5 separate regions of the Homo sapiens genome follow, and regions 2, 3, 4 and 5 are each reported to be linked to region 1. The links are microRNA targets in miRTarBase. Many come from high-throughput screens and were not tested one by one. Region 1 holds a microRNA gene; each other region holds the end of a gene's coding sequence.

Evidence for each region. The annotated mature microRNA hsa-miR-30a-5p reads UGUAAACAUCCUCGACUGGAAG and lies in region 1 at 2,227-2,248, opposite strand. An mRNA with a match to its seed (bases 2 to 7 or 8) in the 3' UTR can be bound and repressed. Matches are read on the target gene's strand: a 7mer-m8 pairs with bases 2 to 8, a 7mer-A1 pairs with bases 2 to 7 and ends in A, and an 8mer does both.
Region 2: the mRNA of SRPRA is a reported target of hsa-miR-30a-5p. Seed matches in the 3' UTR shown: 7mer-m8 at 2,218-2,224.
Region 3: miRTarBase lists STRIP1 as a target of hsa-miR-30a-5p. Seed matches in the 3' UTR shown: 8mer at 1,167-1,174.
Region 4: miRTarBase lists TIMM9 as a target of hsa-miR-30a-5p. The part of its 3' UTR that is shown has no 7-base or 8-base seed match.
Region 5: the mRNA of PPA1 is a reported target of hsa-miR-30a-5p. The part of its 3' UTR that is shown has no 7-base or 8-base seed match.

Annotation. Positions count from the first base shown.
Region 1 is chr6:71,401,369-71,405,696 of GRCh38, forward strand. MIR30A (microRNA 30a) reads right to left here and starts at 2,253; the gene lies at 2,183-2,253. RefSeq lists an enhancer at 721-1,249.
Region 2 is chr11:126,261,149-126,264,148 of GRCh38, forward strand. It overlaps SRPRA (SRP receptor subunit alpha), which reads right to left. Exons shown (of 14, transcript NM_003139.4): 14 at 1,790-2,896. The coding sequence ends at 2,768. It overlaps FAM118B (family with sequence similarity 118 member B), which reads left to right. Exons shown (of 9, transcript NM_024556.4): 8 at 277-336; 9 at 972-1,820. The coding sequence ends at 985. Among named protein-coding and RNA genes, the nearest start is that of SRPRA, 6.2 kb to the right of the region's middle.
Region 3 is chr1:110,053,448-110,056,447 of GRCh38, forward strand. STRIP1 (striatin interacting protein 1) reads left to right here. Exons shown (of 21, transcript NM_033088.4): 21 at 218-1,194. The coding sequence ends at 465. Among named protein-coding and RNA genes, the nearest start is that of ALX3, 16 kb to the right of the region's middle.
Region 4 is chr14:58,406,570-58,409,569 of GRCh38, forward strand. TIMM9 (translocase of inner mitochondrial membrane 9) reads right to left here. Exons shown (of 6, transcript NM_012460.4): 6 at 1,926-2,599. The coding sequence ends at 2,465. It overlaps TOMM20L (translocase of outer mitochondrial membrane 20 like), which reads left to right. Exons shown (of 5, transcript NM_207377.3): 4 at 757-899; 5 at 1,960-2,133. The coding sequence ends at 2,013. Among named protein-coding and RNA genes, the nearest start is that of TOMM20L, 12 kb to the left of the region's middle.
Region 5 is chr10:70,200,532-70,203,531 of GRCh38, reverse strand. It overlaps PPA1 (inorganic pyrophosphatase 1), which reads left to right. Exons shown (of 11, transcript NM_021129.4): 11 at 346-697. The coding sequence ends at 377. Among named protein-coding and RNA genes, the nearest start is that of PPA1, 31 kb to the left of the region's middle.

The DNA of each region.
Region 1 (4,328 bases):
TTATCTTACCTAAGCACATGCATGGTAACTCTGTCCACGTAGTGGTAGAAACATAATACTGTAAACTTTAGAAGTTATTTTTTTTGTAAAATAAAAAATTGCATCCAGATCTTATTTCAATTATGAATAACACACTGTTGATGTTATTTTATTTATTTATATGTATATCTATATATATATATAGATATATTTTTTTTGAGATGGTAGGCTCGCTCTGTCGCCCAGGCTGGAGTTCAGTGGCACCATTTTGGCTCACCACAACCTCTCCCTCTCAGGTTCAAGCAATTCTCAGCCACCTCAGTAGCTGGGATTACAGGCACGTGCCACCACACCCAGCTAATTTTTGTATTTTTAATGGAGACAGGGTTTCACCATGTTGTTCAGATTGATCTCAAACTCCTGACCTCAAGTGATCCACCTGCCTCAGCCTCCTAAAGTGCTGGGATTACAGGCGTAAGCCACCGTGCCTGGACTGTTGATGTTACTTTAAAATAGTAGTTTACATTATTACTGTGGAAATGTGGGGCACAAGACATAAGAAATACTAGGTATTAATTTTGAAACTACCCGGAATGGCTTATGGAGGTTTGTATTTGTTGATTTAAAAATAATTAAAAATGCTGTAATTTTTACAAATTAAAAAGTTCCCATAACTAATTATTTACATGAACAAAATGAACAGATAAAAATGAAAAATGGAAAATTTAGGGGCAGTAAGGTAAGGAAGAGGATATAAAATAACATAGGAAGAGAACCTAAAGAAAGTGAAGGTCAAAGATTTAGGAAAAGTTTAACCATTTCTTCAAACCTATAGTCATTTACCTAGGAAATACGGTCGGGTGACCCCAGAAAAACAGCCGAGTTATTTGCTCCAGGGGTTTTCAGCTTACCAATTAAAATAGACCACATTCTCAGTTCCAGACCCAGGGCCTGGCAGAGGCCTCTCCAAGCCCCTTGCATTTCAGTGGCAGTTGATGAACCTCTCATGGCCCAGCATGACTAATAGAGTTTTGATAGCTTTATGTATGAGGGAAACTTAAAGACATTTCTAACACATATTTCTCTCCATCCCAGGTATTAGAAGAAATGCTACTATTTTAAATAGTGGTATGATCATACTGTTTTAGTATCACTTCTTTATCATCATCATCAATGGGTATTAAACAGGGAAAAGAAACTCTTTTACATTAATGGAAACACTATATATTTATAAAATACTGTGTTTTAGAGGACAAAAGATATCACTTTCATATCTTTTTAAAGTGTCTAGTTTCTATATAAGTGTATCCTTAATATTTCTATTATACACTTAAATATTTCTCTTATACACTTAAATATTTCTATTTAAGTGTATAATATTAAAAATATCCGCCATAAGAAAAATACGCATTTACAAAAAAGGAAAATTAGAAATTATGTCCATCACAGAAATCTTCTACAGGATTCTGAATCTTAAAATTGTCTTCATATATTTAGGATAGAATTTGATGTATTTATTATTTTTAAGAGATATGAGTTATTGCATAAAGCTAAGTTAAAAGTTCAACCAAATGGAAACAGTATCCACAAATTCCTAAAATACTATTCTAATCATCTGAAACAAGAATAGGTTTTTCAAATAATAGAGTTAGTTGAATCAGTATTTGTTTGTTTTAGACACTTTATTAAGCTGAGAGCTGCTACTTTATTACTTAAACACTAAGCCTATAAGGAAATAAAAGGGGTTTAATCCAAGTAATGTGAAAATAACTAACCCTTCATCTTACTTTTTTCCCCCAAATAATTGTGGTTTCATTAATGGATTTTTTTTTTGTGAATGGGTCTAAAAAACACCTATTTTGAAACTGCAGAAAGGGCAGGACAAAACAAATCACTTCATAGATTTTTCTGGGAAATATTGCCCTACTACGCTTTTAAAAAAAATAAAAATACTGTAACACATTTCCTCATTTCTCTTACGAATACTTTCTTTTTGATATTGCAAATTCTATGCATACACAGAGCACCTCCTCAATGCCCTGCTGAAGCCCTCTAAAAATGTACAGACATGGTTTTAAAGTGATTTAATTTATACCATTTTAATTCAGCTTTGTAAAAATGTATCAAAGAGATAGCAAGGTATTCAGTTTTAGTAAACAAGATAATTGCTCCTAAAGTAGCCCCTTGAAGTCCGAGGCAGTAGGCAGCTGCAAACATCCGACTGAAAGCCCATCTGTGGCTTCACAGCTTCCAGTCGAGGATGTTTACAGTCGCTCACTGTCAACAGCAATATACCTTCTTTAGCCTTCTGTTGGGTTAACCTGAAGAAGTAATCCCAGCAAGTGTTTCCAAGATGTGCAGGCAACGATTCTGTAAAGTACTGAAGCCTCATTCAAACAGCAATATTCTAGAAAATGTCTCAAATTCAAAACAAATAAGAAGGCTCATGGATGTCTATTATTCATCACCGAGCTTCTAGTTTCTATAAAATTTTGTGATATACTAAAACAACATATATAAATGGTTTCATTCATTATTGTTAGCCACAAGAAGTAAATAGGCAAGTGGCCAGGTTACTTAATATGATTTCAACATGCATTATGTAATTACAATCCTTTAAGCAAAAGTGACCAAACACAGAAACTAAATTATCTTAACAGCGTAAAGCGTACATTTAACATCAAATACTGCAGTTGAGTGAACTTAGACTACCGTGAAAATATAAAAGGTCTACTTGGAAAGTTATAAACTCTGACAAAAAAAAAAAAGACTTACATGCTGCTTTTATAGATCACTTTTGCTCTAAAGTCTGCTCCCAGAGAGGACTTGTACAGTCAGCTGATTTTTGAAAGAGTAAGCAACAATCAGGAGAAAAACAGAAAAGAATAACGAGGTATAACACAGGCATATATCAGTATGTGGATCAAAGTTTCCCACTGGAAAAACACAGAACCTATCACTCACAACAGTGACGCACATTAACTCCAAATTTGAATGTTTTGAATTCCACTCCCATTCTCTTATGAAAATAAATGAGGAAAACTGAAGGTTAAGCTCTATCAGTCACTACTTTCCTGAAGTAATTCAAAACCATTCTGAATCTAGTGAAAGATTAAGTTGATACAGAAAAGTGGGTGTGCCTTTCCCTGAGATTTGTTTTTAGATGAAGTTACCGTAAGGTTCTTAAATTGTGTAAGTCTTAGTAGTTTGTGATCTCAAACCCGAAACAAAAATAAAATCCACACAAAAAGCATCATGTTTACTGAAACTAACAAATATGAAGAACTCCATAAATTACTTTCTCAAAGCAAAGGGTAACTCTATCCCATTAAGGTTAAAAAAGTTAATCTTTGAGTCAGCAGGTGAAAACAAGCTGAATTATGTTGTGGCCTTTTTCTTTATTAACTAAGGACTTTGAACTATTAAAACTTCCTAGGGAACCAGTTTTCTCAATGGGTCAAGTCACACAGGGGAACAAAGCAAACTTTATCAGTGCTGTGCAATTCTACATTCCAGAAATTCTTAGTACTTGGCATTCATATACCACTGCTGACTAGAGCTTGAGTCAATCCACCAAACTCAGCTATGGCTACCAACCTTGTGAACTTCTCACCAAGATACCCACTTCTTTTAAGTTAGCCACGACTAGACAGGCAGAGTACTCTTTAATTAAAATAGATAAATACCAAGGCTTACACCCTGGGGGGACATTGTATATCAGTGACTCTTTACAAAAAGAAAATATTTTTACCACCATAAATTTTTCTCAAAGTGACAGGTCCCCTACTTGCCTTGGAATCTTACCACTTTTAAATAACTGTAAATTATTAAATAACATGTAAAACAGTGACAAGTAAATACTAAGCAAACAACCTCAAATAACAAATAATTACTTAAATAATTCTATTGCCACCCTCTCACTTTGAGAATTGCTGATCCAAGTGGGACCTATACTACTCAGTAACCAAAAAAACAAGCATGTAGTTTAAGTAATAATGAGTCTCAGTTAAACTGGTAAAATTGTCTGGCATCTGACTGGAATAAATCTGCTTTAGCTTTCACATAGACTTCACCTAGCTCATATCTTGCTAAAAGAGGAGCCCACATACATACAGGCAATAAAGTGCTTTTCCATTTATGAAGTATTATAACTAAGATCTTATGGTCTTTAATTATTTTGTTTAGTGAAAATTTGATGTTTATTCATGAAGTTCTGAGCAAAACGCTGTGTTTTCAAAGTTATGTTAAGGAATTCATTGGATCAGCAATTCTCCAAGTGAGAGGGTGGCAACAGAATGACCAGGACAGCTTCTTCTAACCCCACATACCTGATTGCCTCTGCCACATCC
Region 2 (3,000 bases), not on the chromosome of region 1:
GTATGTGAAATGTAAAATGTAAAATGTAAAATGTTTTGTCTACAAGCAATCGTAGTGCACTGTGGAAACTCACTGCTTCCCTGTTAGGTAATGCAAGTCTAAAGACTACTCCAGTTTATCCTCTCTGCCTCCTTATCTTCTCAATGATTGTTTCATTTCTAAATGCCCATTCCTTTTCAGTCGTACCATATGTCCTCATCTCCCTTTAGTTTTCTTTTTGCTATTAATAGTTTTAGCTTTTCAGTCTAATGTCTGATGCTGATGTCCTCTATTTAGCAGGGATGGTGAGAGAAGGTCAGCTAAATGGCTCATCTGCAGCACACAGTGAAATAAGAGGTATACTGTTTCCTATTCTACTATTTATCACTCTGTAGCAGAAAGTCTTTCTAGGTCCTTGGTTAAGAATATAGAGAATGTTACTTTGGACCTCACATTGCCAAATTTTAAAAAACACTGTAGAGAATGATTTTCCTCTCCTACCCATTAAGGATTCTATCTTTTCCTATCAAGTCTATTACAATCTAGTGCAGTGATCAGTTAATTTTTTGAAAAAAGTACTGCTGGGTGTGGTGGCTCAGGCCTGTAATCCCAGCACTTTGGGAGGCTGAGGCAGGAGGATTGCTTGAGCCCAGGAGTTTGAGACCAGCCTGAGCAACATAGCAAGATGCTGTTTCTACAAAAAAAATTTTTTTAAATTGCTAGGTCTGGTGCTGTGTGCCTATAGTCCCGGCTACTGGCTGAGGTAGGAGGATTGCTTGAGCCCAGTGAGCTGATTGTGCCACTGCATTTGAGCCTGGGTGACAAAGACCTTGTCTCTAAAAAGTAAATAAAATTTTAAATAAATTACAAGATTCCTAGAATCTCCTGTCTTGCCTTCTGAAGGGTTAGGATTGACTTAAGTATCTGCAGCTTCCAATGTATAAACCTGTTTTGTGAAACTTCATTTTGTTCTCTTTTCTTTCTCCCTACAGGCTGTAGTACATGAGCGAGCTAGAGAAATCACCACCGTTTAGACCAAGCTGTAAGGCCCTACTACAGACAGTGTTTAACAAGTAAACTTACAAGAACCCAACACAATTCCCAGAAAGTAACAATAGCCAGAGGTTGAAGGGCGGGGTAGAAGAGGGGGGAATGTTGCAGCGTAATCCTTCATACCACCTGGTTCTTGATATTCTGCCGCCTGTTCAAGTTCAAGAATAAAAGCGACAGCAGGACCCAAATGCAGCTCCCAACCCACTCCCCAGGCTAGACATGCTTGTGTCCACACAGCACACCAATGTGATACTTCCACTGACCGGCTGCAGCTCTGCATGAAGGACTCGGGGTCTGGATGCCATGGAATCACTGTGGCTCTTGTTGCAGTTTTGTACTCTATACTTGGTTTTTCAATTAAGCTTAATGGCTTTTTTAAAACATGACTTGAAGCTCTAGTTTTCTAGATCTTTTACAGTGTACAGTATTTTACATAACTAAGCTGTATTAAAAGCTTGTTCATTTACTTGCCAGGACCCTGGCTCTACTTTTAGAGTCATTGTAAGAAACTCTAACTTGCATCAAGGTACTAATAAGCTTAATTTTAATAACCCAAAGTTTAAAGGTTCCGATCTTTCTCCTTGGGGTGGAGTGATCTCATTCTCAGGACAACCGTTTACTTACCTGATTCCTCGGAGCATTATCAACTTCTGCTCTGTTGTCCTGACCATACATATGTCCTAGAACTACAGTTAAGTGTGTTGTGGAATTTTAGTTTTGAATCCTGTATAAAAGAACTCCAAGACCTAAAAGGCAATTTATTTATGAAATTTATTTTCTTATATAAATTACTTATTTCTCTGGGCAGACAGCCTTCACCTTATTGCACTAATAGCACATCTGTAATATCAAGCTACAGGACAAGTCTTAACAAGAGGTTTGTGTTCTTCAATGTAGCACTTGTCTACCAGGCACTGTAGAGGGGAGTGATGAGGAAAAGCCAGGACTGCTTAGGAGGTGAAGGATGGGAGGGGAGGGGGTCATCATACATCCTTCTGACAATTGGTTTCCTCCCAGGAAGGGGAACATGCAGAGCTTACTTCTGGATTCTGGGAGTGGGAAGAGTTGGGAGGCCAAGAAGCCCAATGCAACGCTGCAGCTGAGCTCCTTTTATTTCTGAGGGAAGCAAGGACTCATCTTTTGCTCATTTGTAACAAATCACTCCAGCCTAGCTGATGCTTTGGGGTAAACAATGGAGTAGGAGTCATCATCAGAATTAGAATTAGCAGCAATTAACAGGCAATACACTGCCACAGTGAGGCGGGTGTCATCCAGGTCCTGGGGACCTGCAGGCTGTGTATCCTAGGGAGAGGTGCCATTCAAGACCTGGCGCTGGCTCTGGAAGAGTCTCTTAACCTAATGCAGCTGGGACTCATTAGGCTCAGACGGCTCTTGACCACACTAATTATTAGCAAAGCTCTGGTGTTGGGTTCCAACCATTGGTCAAAGCTGTAATAAGACTGAGTCTGTAGGCAGAGTGAAGGGGGTGCCTGAGTAGGAAGGGGGAGGCCCGCTGGGAGAGGGTCAGTGGGCAGTGATTGTAACATGATTAGGCCTTCCTTGCAGATGGCGGCTGTGCTGAACGGGGAGTGGGGTTGGAAGGAGCCACAAGCCCCCTCACTCTGCCTTTGTACTACACTGAAGACAGGTTGCTCACATACTCTAAAGCACATTCTTGATACAGGAAGAAGGGCTTGTGGGGAAAGCGGCGATTTGGTATTGGGCAAGAGCCACGTTAAGCCTTCATGAGGGCAGCCACCACAGCCTTGGCATTGAGGCTGCGTAGGTCACAGTAGGTCTGGCCGGTGCCCACAAAGACGATGGGTTTGCTTGTGATGTACGTCATAGAAATAGCAGCTCCCACCTAAGTGGAGAAAGAGGACAGCCCATCAACACAAGCCCACTTTTCACTCACCCTCTCAGGAACAGGAAGCGCTGGAGCCAAGATTTCCTTGCAGCCTCAGCTCC
Region 3 (3,000 bases), not on the chromosome of region 1:
TAATCCCTACAGTATAAGCCTCTTTCTCAGTACCTCTGGCTTTTCTGCTTGTACTTGACTCTCCTTTGGATCTAGGAAGGAATTCCTGGCATCTTTCTGAGGATGAGCTCGGAGGTATCCTGCTCTTAGTTGACACTCAATATTCCTGGCCAGTGAATCCATGGGGAGCTGCTACAGGGCATGGCTCCTAACGGTGTTTCTTCCTGCTTTGTCTCAGATCTTGATGCCCGGCCTTGGGACTTCCAGGCAGAGGAGTGTGCCCTTCGTGCCAACATTGAACGCTTCAACGCCCGGCGCTATGACCGGGCCCACAGCAACCCTGACTTCCTGCCAGTGGACAACTGCCTGCAGAGTGTCCTGGGCCAACGGGTGGACCTCCCTGAGGACTTTCAGATGAACTATGACCTCTGGTTAGAAAGGGAGGTCTTCTCCAAGCCCATTTCCTGGGAAGAGCTGCTGCAGTGAGGCTGTTGGTTAGGGGACTGAAATGGAGAGAAAAGATGATCTGAAGGTACCTGTGGGACTGTCCTAGTTCATTGCTGCAGTGCTCCCATCCCCCACCAGGTGGCAGCACAGCCCCACTGTGTCTTCCGCAGTCTGTCCTGGGCTTGGGTGAGCCCAGCTTGACCTCCCCTTGGTTCCCAGGGTCCTGCTCCGAAGCAGTCATCTCTGCCTGAGATCCATTCTTCCTTTACTTCCCCCACCCTCCTCTCTTGGATATGGTTGGTTTTGGCTCATTTCACAATCAGCCCAAGGCTGGGAAAGCTGGAATGGGATGGGAACCCCTCCGCCGTGCATCTGAATTTCAGGGGTCATGCTGATGCCTCTCGAGACATACAAATCCTTGCTTTGTCAGCTTGCAAAGGAGGAGAGTTTAGGATTAGGGCCAGGGCCAGAAAGTCGGTATCTTGGTTGTGCTCTGGGGTGGGGGTGGGGTGTTTCTGATGTTATTCCAGCCTCCTGCTACATTATATCCAGAAGTAATTGCGGAGGCTCCTTCAGCTGCCTCAGCACTTTGATTTTGGACAGGGACAAGGTAGGAAGAGAAGCTTCCCTTAACCAGAGGGGCCATTTTTCCTTTTGGCTTTCGAGGGCCTGTAAATATCTATATATAATTCTGTGTGTATTCTGTGTCATGTTGGGGTTTTTAATGTGATTGTGTATTCTGTTTACATTAAAAAGAAGCAAAAATAATTCCCGTTGGCTTGTCTACAGGAAATATGGCCTCTACGTATCTCCTCCAGGTCTAGAAAGTGGTTTTTTCTGCTAGCATTGCTGGTCAACGCTTGTCCTTGTCAAGCTGCCTGCCTTTCCCATCCTGGGGGAAGAGGAGAGAGAGTTGGCATTTATCCAGTGTAAGTTAACCCCACAGTAATCTGGGATTGCTCTAGCCCAACTCCAGGGCACTAGGTTACTTTACTGACACATTGTCCTGCACCCCTGGGTTTGCTGTAATTTCAGTAGGAGCCCCAGGTTTCTCTGGATCACATCACTGAGCTGGCCTCAGCCAAACCAGTGTCAGTGCTATGGAGGGAGGGGCTAGGTCAAAGCAAGGGGGTCTGCTGCTCTAGGTCCTCCCTGGGGCAGGTGGTTGGGACTGAGGGGAAACTTCAGTACTCAGAGCCTAGGAAGCAGACCATCAGGAGTCAGGTTCACGGTGGGAAAAAGTGTTGGAGGGCCCAGGAGCCCCCTGTGGCTGAGAGAAAAGCAAGGAAAATCTTTGTAGTAGGTGTCAGTGGACACCTGGCGCCTCCACTTTGGCCTCCAGACCCCTGGTTTCATCTGCCTGAGAAGATATTAGTGTTTTGATGCTGGTGAAAGGAGTGTTTCCTTTTTAGAATTCCTGGAAGCTCTTATTTTACCTGTAGGCAGTTGTTTTGTAGGTTGTTAAATCTCCAAGGGGTCTTGACTTGTAAAGGAAACATGTTCTGGGGAGCATCTCCCCTTCTTTGGGTCTTGTGTTCATGCCTGCCTGGCCTGGGACCTGCTGAGCCTCAGGACAGGCCTTTTGATGTGCCAGCATGGTTAGGGACAGCAGGGGTGGAAGGCAGCAGTGTACTCCTGATGGTCACACAGCTGTGAGATGGGAAGTCCCATCTGTGACTGATGGGCCCTGTGCCCCAAAGTAACTTGTACAGGACAAGGGAATTGACACAATTTATGTGTGGATGATGGATTTTCTGCTATTTCTTTCCAGGACTGACAGGAAATATGTATCTTGAGATTTCAATTAGGGAGAGATGGATTTTTCACATTCTTACTCTCCCATGAAGCCTGAGTCACTGAAACTGCGTGGTCGAGGCCTGTCTCTCCTCTGACCTGCAAAAGAGAATGCAGGACTATCAAAGCTGCAAGGGCCATAAAGCCTGGGCAGGCAAATCCTTTCAGCTGTAGGCCCAGGAGCCAGCCTGGGGAGAGGAAGGGGCTTCTCACAGCCACAGAGTGTATTAGTGGCAGGTTGGCCATTTGAACTCAGGTCTTTGTACAGAAATGTCTTTTGGAGCCACACAGTTTTTGTGGCTTTTTAAATCTCATATGGGTCATGAAATGGGCAGAGTACATGAAGACCCTTTGTACTTTGATTGAGTTACATAAAATGTTGTTTATTGCTAAGCAGGGTCAGGGTCCACTGCTCCTTCAATCCACCGAGGGACAGATTACCCTGAGGCAGTATCACTCTAAGGATGGGAGCTGTCCCTTGTTAATCGTAAGAGTTACCACTTATGGGTTGCCAAGTAGGTACCAGGCACAATATTAGATGCTTCTCAAAGCCTTATTTTCTACAAAGCCAGCAAATGCTGAGTACTTACAATGTGCCAGCCAGCGTTCTAACCACTTGATGTATAATATCTTACATATTCCTTGTGATATCCTGAAAGATACATGCCATTTTAATCCCTATTTTGCACAGGAGAAAACTGTGGCACAGAAAGGATAAAGAACTTGCCCAAGGTCATATAAAGGCAAGAGCCAGGATTCAAATCCAGGCCTCTGTCTCAG
Region 4 (3,000 bases), not on the chromosome of region 1:
AGTCTCAAGGGTCAGAAAATTAGATTATATTCCTAAGGCTAGCATTAATCAGCATTGAAACTATACATCATTTCACTGATCTTTGCCTGTTTCCTTAAAGTAAAACAAGGGAGTGGGATTAAAGTCATTCCATGTTCTAACTTAAACAGAAATCCTATGATTAATTTTCACTCTTCACATATTTTCATTTGTTGTTACTTCAAAGCCAATCATCCTAAAACTCACTTTAAAACTGTGCTTAGAAATCAGAGTTCATAAATCTCTTATTTTTTTCCCTGGGGTATGTAATTCATGTTACACTACATCTTGTTTCAACTCTTTGATAGTGAAATCTATTTTTTTTAAGTTCCATTTAGCTGGAACATCAGATGTTTCATCTATAATATTTTTTCAATCACACATGTAAAGATAACCTATCAGATATTAATAAAAGCAGACAACTGCTTACAAAAAACCTCAGTATCCTCTTCCCTCCATACCCAAATTATAGAACACGAGCATTTCCAATGCAAGAGTATACTTCTAAACAGTAAGAGTATACTTGCTGTAATTTGGCTCAAAATTAATATTGCCGCTTCACCACTGTGAAGCTCAACATCTTCCTCATATTTGTACTCTACTCTTCACAAGACTTGTCTAAGTAGTCTTTAGTTGGATATGCTTTTAATTTTTAATGCTTGTTGCTTTCTTGGATTTGTAGAATGTCTGTTTTAAAGAACTTCAAAATTTTGCTCAAAACTTGTCATTCTGTTTCAGGAGAGCACAGAATGGGGATTCAACACCTCGGCAATGCCCTTTTAGTGTGCGAGCAACCACGGGAACTTCTGAAAGTTTTCAAACACACTCTCCCTCCCAAGGTATTTGAGATGCTGTTGCACAAAATTCCCCTTATTTGCCAGGTGAGCACATATTTAATTATCTTTGTGAAATGTACACAGTAAATAGCTATGTTATGCTTGACTACACAGAAATATCAAAGTATGTGTGTGAATTGCCCAAAATCTTAAATAAGTGAAATCTCTGAATTTTTGGCTGCTTTAACACGAAGCAAGCCTATTCTTCATTTTCCTTTGACTATAATAAATTGTATATTTTCTTGTATTATCCGTATTTCAACAGTTCAATTTTAAAGCAGAACATTGCTTCTACTTCCATTAACATACAAAACATAGAAATCACTTTGGTAAATTTAAACATACAGGCTAATTAGCATTCTCTTAAATATAGGTTTAAAATGGTATCAAATGAAATCCATTCATAAGCCAGTTGATTAGTAAGTTTTAGTCCACTTCCATTTTACTAAACTGCTTGGTGTATGTATGCATCAACTAGAATTTCCTGCAAATGCTTGGATTCATTTCAGGATTCATTAGGCATAAGACATTAACTTTGGTTCCCTTTTTATCATTGGCAAGCCTTGGAATCTATCATATTTGACTGTCAGCTTTTGAACAAAACACAAACATGAACTCCATTACAGTATAACAGTCAACTCTTAAACATTCCCAAACTAGGGCAGATGGGATTGTTTCCTGAAGATATACGAAAATGTAGGTAAGATATGTGGCCAGGCGCGGTGGCTCACGCCTGTAATCCTAGCACTTTGGGAGGCTGAGGCAGGCGGATCACCTGAGGTCAGAAGTTCGAGACCAGCCTGGCCAATGTGGTGAAACCCCATTTCTACTAAAAATACAAAAGTTAGCCGGGCATGGTGGCACACACCTGTAATCCCAGCTACTTGGGAGGCTGAAGCAGCAGAATTGCTTGAACTGGGGAGGTGGAGGTTGCAGTGAGCTGAGATTGTGCCGTTGCACTCCATCCTGGGTGACGAAAGCAAAACTCCGTCTCAAAAAAAAAAAAAAAGAAAAGTATATGTAATGCCCACCCTGACACAAGGGAGGCAAGAAAAGGATCATGCATTGAAATGATTAGCAAGTAACTATTTTATGTATTCACCAGCAATTTGAGGCAGACATGAATGAACAGGACTGCTTGGAGGATGATCCTGATTGAAAAACATTTCAACGTATCCACAGTCCAGTGAGAATACTATGGTACCATACAGTATAAACAACTGCTCAGTGATATTTCCATTTATTTTACTTTGAGTAATAAAAATTTTTCTATCTCATACATGATCGAACACATAAGTTGCTTTAAAATTAACAGTCACAATTGAAGAAACAATGGTTTATTTTTCTAATCAAGTGACCAAGCTGCTGAATCATAAGGCCTCAACAAATGTTGCATCTTATTATTTCACTGAACAATAAGACCTTCTATTGTGATTATTCCTGGTAAATAGCAATTTTGTTTCTCCAGCGGTTTCCATTTGCCAAACAGTCATGACAGATGGTTGAACATGGTGGCTACTGCTTTCAGGGGATTCTATCAGATGAGTCCTCATTTCCAATAAAGCAGCTGTTGGCAATCTTTCATCAAAAGTTCATCCATCAGGACTTCTCTATCGTGGTTGGCCAAGGAGTCCTGCTTTGGCTGCCAGGGCTTCATTCTGCTGAATATGATATTCCTGAAATCTCATGGATATTCTTTGTGTCATTTTTAAATATTTCTGTAAGCAATGTTCTGAACAGGTGGTCTAGGAATGAAAAGGGAAGATCCAAGAGGCAACACAAAAATATGAATTTTTTAAAATGCATGTATTCTAAAAGAATCAGTGGGGTAGTTTGCTTTTCTTTGAATATATCTGAGAATTAAATAGTACTAATTGGCAGCAACTGACCATAGCTTTTAATTGATACTTTCATTCACTGACAAGCATTAATATATATTGAATGCCTGCCAGTTTGTAGTCACTAAGAGCAATGATAAGTCTCTGTTTTCAAAAAGCTTCTGGACTAGATTTTCTGCAAGTGTATTAAGTGAAAGCCCACATTCCTGTCTTCTTGTTTCGATTATTAAAATGTAGACCCAGTAGTAAGTTTGTTCCTTTTTAATGAGAAAACAACATTCTTAATTCTCAACCTTTTACTTATTTTA
Region 5 (3,000 bases), not on the chromosome of region 1:
CTGGGGAGACTGAGGCACGAGAATTGCTTGAACCTGGAAGATGGAGGTTGCAGTGAGCCATGATTGCTGCCACTGCACTGCAATCTGGGCAAGAGAGTGAGACCCTGTCTCGAAATTAAAAAAAAAAGTTTGAAAATCACACTATGCAATTAGCATGAAGTGTAAGGAAGCCCAAAAGAAAACACCTGCATTTGCTGTAGAGAAATTTTGTATGTATGCCTGTTAATTTTCAGGTAATTCATAGTAGGATTCATTAAAGCAAGTATATTAGTCTTTGTTATATGTTAGGTGTATTTTTGATTCTCAACAGGAATTCTAATTTGTTTTTCTTTTCTCTGAATACAGTGGATAAGTGGTTCCATCACCAGAAAAACTAATGAGATTTCTCTGGAATACAAGCTGATATTGCTACATCGTGTTCATCTGGATGTATTAGAAGTAAAAGTAGTAGCTTTTCAAAGCTTTAAATTTGTAGAACTCATCTAACTAAAGTAAATTCTGCTGTGACTAATCCAATATACTCAGAATGTTATCCATCTAAAGCATTTTTCATATCTCAACTAAGATAACTTTTAGCACATGCTTAAATATCAAAGCAGTTGTCATTTGGAAGTCACTTGTGAATAGATGTGCAAGGGGAGCACATATTGGATGTATATGTTACCATATGTTAGGAAATAAAATTATTTTGCTGAAACTTGGCTTAGGATATTTTTATTTTAATCTGAAGCCAACATTAAGTAGGTATGGGTATTTTTTGGTGTTTGTTTTCTGTTGATAGTCTTATAATTCAAATTTATAATTATTAGACGAAGAAATCGCTTATATTTATAGTACTCTTGATACTATGCTCTAGTACATAAGTCCTAGCATACCATTCTAAAGCAAAAGTTTTTAAATTTATATCATATTAGCAGAAAGCACAATGTTGCTCACCCTTTGAAGTTATATATTAATAGTTATTTTTTTACTTCTTCAGTCAACTAATTGGACGCTTAAGTCATTTATATTATATTCTAAGTTATCAGCTGAACAAACCAGTTTGAATGCCAGCCCATCTTCTTACTAGCTCTGTAATCTTAAGTCAGTTTACCAACCACTCAACTTCAGTTCCTTCATCTGTGAAACAGACATTATTCATGTAATGGCATGTAGTATGCATTCAGATTCTTTTTTTTTTTTTTGAAACAGGGTCTCACTGTCGCCCAGGCTGGAGTGCAGTGGTGTGATCTCGGCCCACTTCAACCTCTGCCTCCTGGGTTCAAGTGATTCTCCTGCCTCAGCCTCCCAAGTAGCTGGGAGTACAGGCATGCACCACAATGCCTGACTAATTCTGGTATTTTTAGTAGAGACGGGGTTCACCACGTTGGCCGGGCTGCTCTCGAACTCCTGTCCTCAAGTGATCCACCCACCTCAGCCTCCCAAAGTGCTGGGATTAGAGGTGTGAGCCACTGTGCCCAGCCCATTCAGATTTTTTTAATGAAAATTTTATTGAGATGAATATAGATTCACATGTAGTTCTAAAAAAGTAATTCAGAGATAATTCAAATAATTCTGTATACCTTACCCTGTTTCTCCTAAAAGTAAGATTTTGTAAAACTATAGTATAACAACCAGGACATTGACTTTGATATAATCCACCAATCATATACAGACTCCAAATCCACCAATCATATTCAGACTTCCTAGTTTCACTGTATTAATGAATATTTGTATGATGTATTCTATATAATTTATAATTCTATAGTGTAATCACCTAGGTAAGTTTATGTATCCTATAAGATATTGAACAGTTTCAACACCACAAGATCTCTCGTGTTGCCCTTTTATAATCACACCCACCTCCCCCCTGTCTTCTGCACACCACCATCCGTAACCCCTGGCAACCACTAATCTGTCCTCCATTTTTCTATGATTTTGTCATTTCAAGAATATTATATAAATGGAATCATACAGTATGTAACCTTTCAGGATTGGCTTTTCACTCAGTGTAATTCCCCGGTATTCCTTCAAGTTGCCACATATATCAATGTTTCATTCTTTTTATTCATTCCTTTTTATTGCTGAGTACTTTCCATGATATGTTTTGTTTTACCTGTTGAAGGACATCTGGGCTGATCCAGTGTTTGGCTATTACAGATACAGCTGCAATGAACATATTTGTACATGTTTTCACGTCAACATAAAACATTTTCATTTCTCTCAGATCTCTAGCAGTGTAATTGCTGAGTCACATGATAGATGCATGTTTTATTAGAAGGTACCAAATTTTCTAGAGTTATGGTCACATTTTACATTCCCAACAGCAATGTTGGAGTGATTCAATTTTTCCACATCCTTGCCAGCATTTGGTTTGCCTTTTTTTTTTTTTTTTTGAGACAGGGTCTCACTGTCACCCAGGCTGGAATGCAGTGGCACAATCTTGGCTTACTGCAACCTCCACCTCCCAGGCTCAAGCAATCCTCCTGCCTCAGTTTCCCAAGTAGCTGGGAATACAGTTGTGTGCCATAATGCCCAGCTAATTTTTGTAGAGATGAGGTTTCACCATGTTGCCCAGGCTGGTCTCGAACTCCTGGGCTCAAGTGACCCGCCCGCCTCGGCCTTCCAAAGTGCTGCTGGAATTACAAGTGTGAGCTGCCCTGCCTGGCCTACTATATTTTATTTTAGCCATTCTGTTGGGTGTGTAGTAGTATCTCATGGTAGTTTTAATTTGCATTTCTCTAATAGCTAATGATGTTAAACATCTTTTCATGTGCTTGTTTGCCACCTGTATATCCTGTTTGGTGAAATGTCTGTTCATGTCATTTACTCATTTTAAAATTGTTTAGTTTCATTTTTAATGTTAAGTTTTGGAGTCCTTCAGAGTTCAGATATTTGGTTTGCAAACATTTTTTTCCCAGTTGGCAACTTGTTCTTTCATTTTTTTCACATACTCTTTCACAGAGCAAAATCTTTTAATTTTTAAAAAGACCAACTTACCACATTTTCCTTTTATGGTCA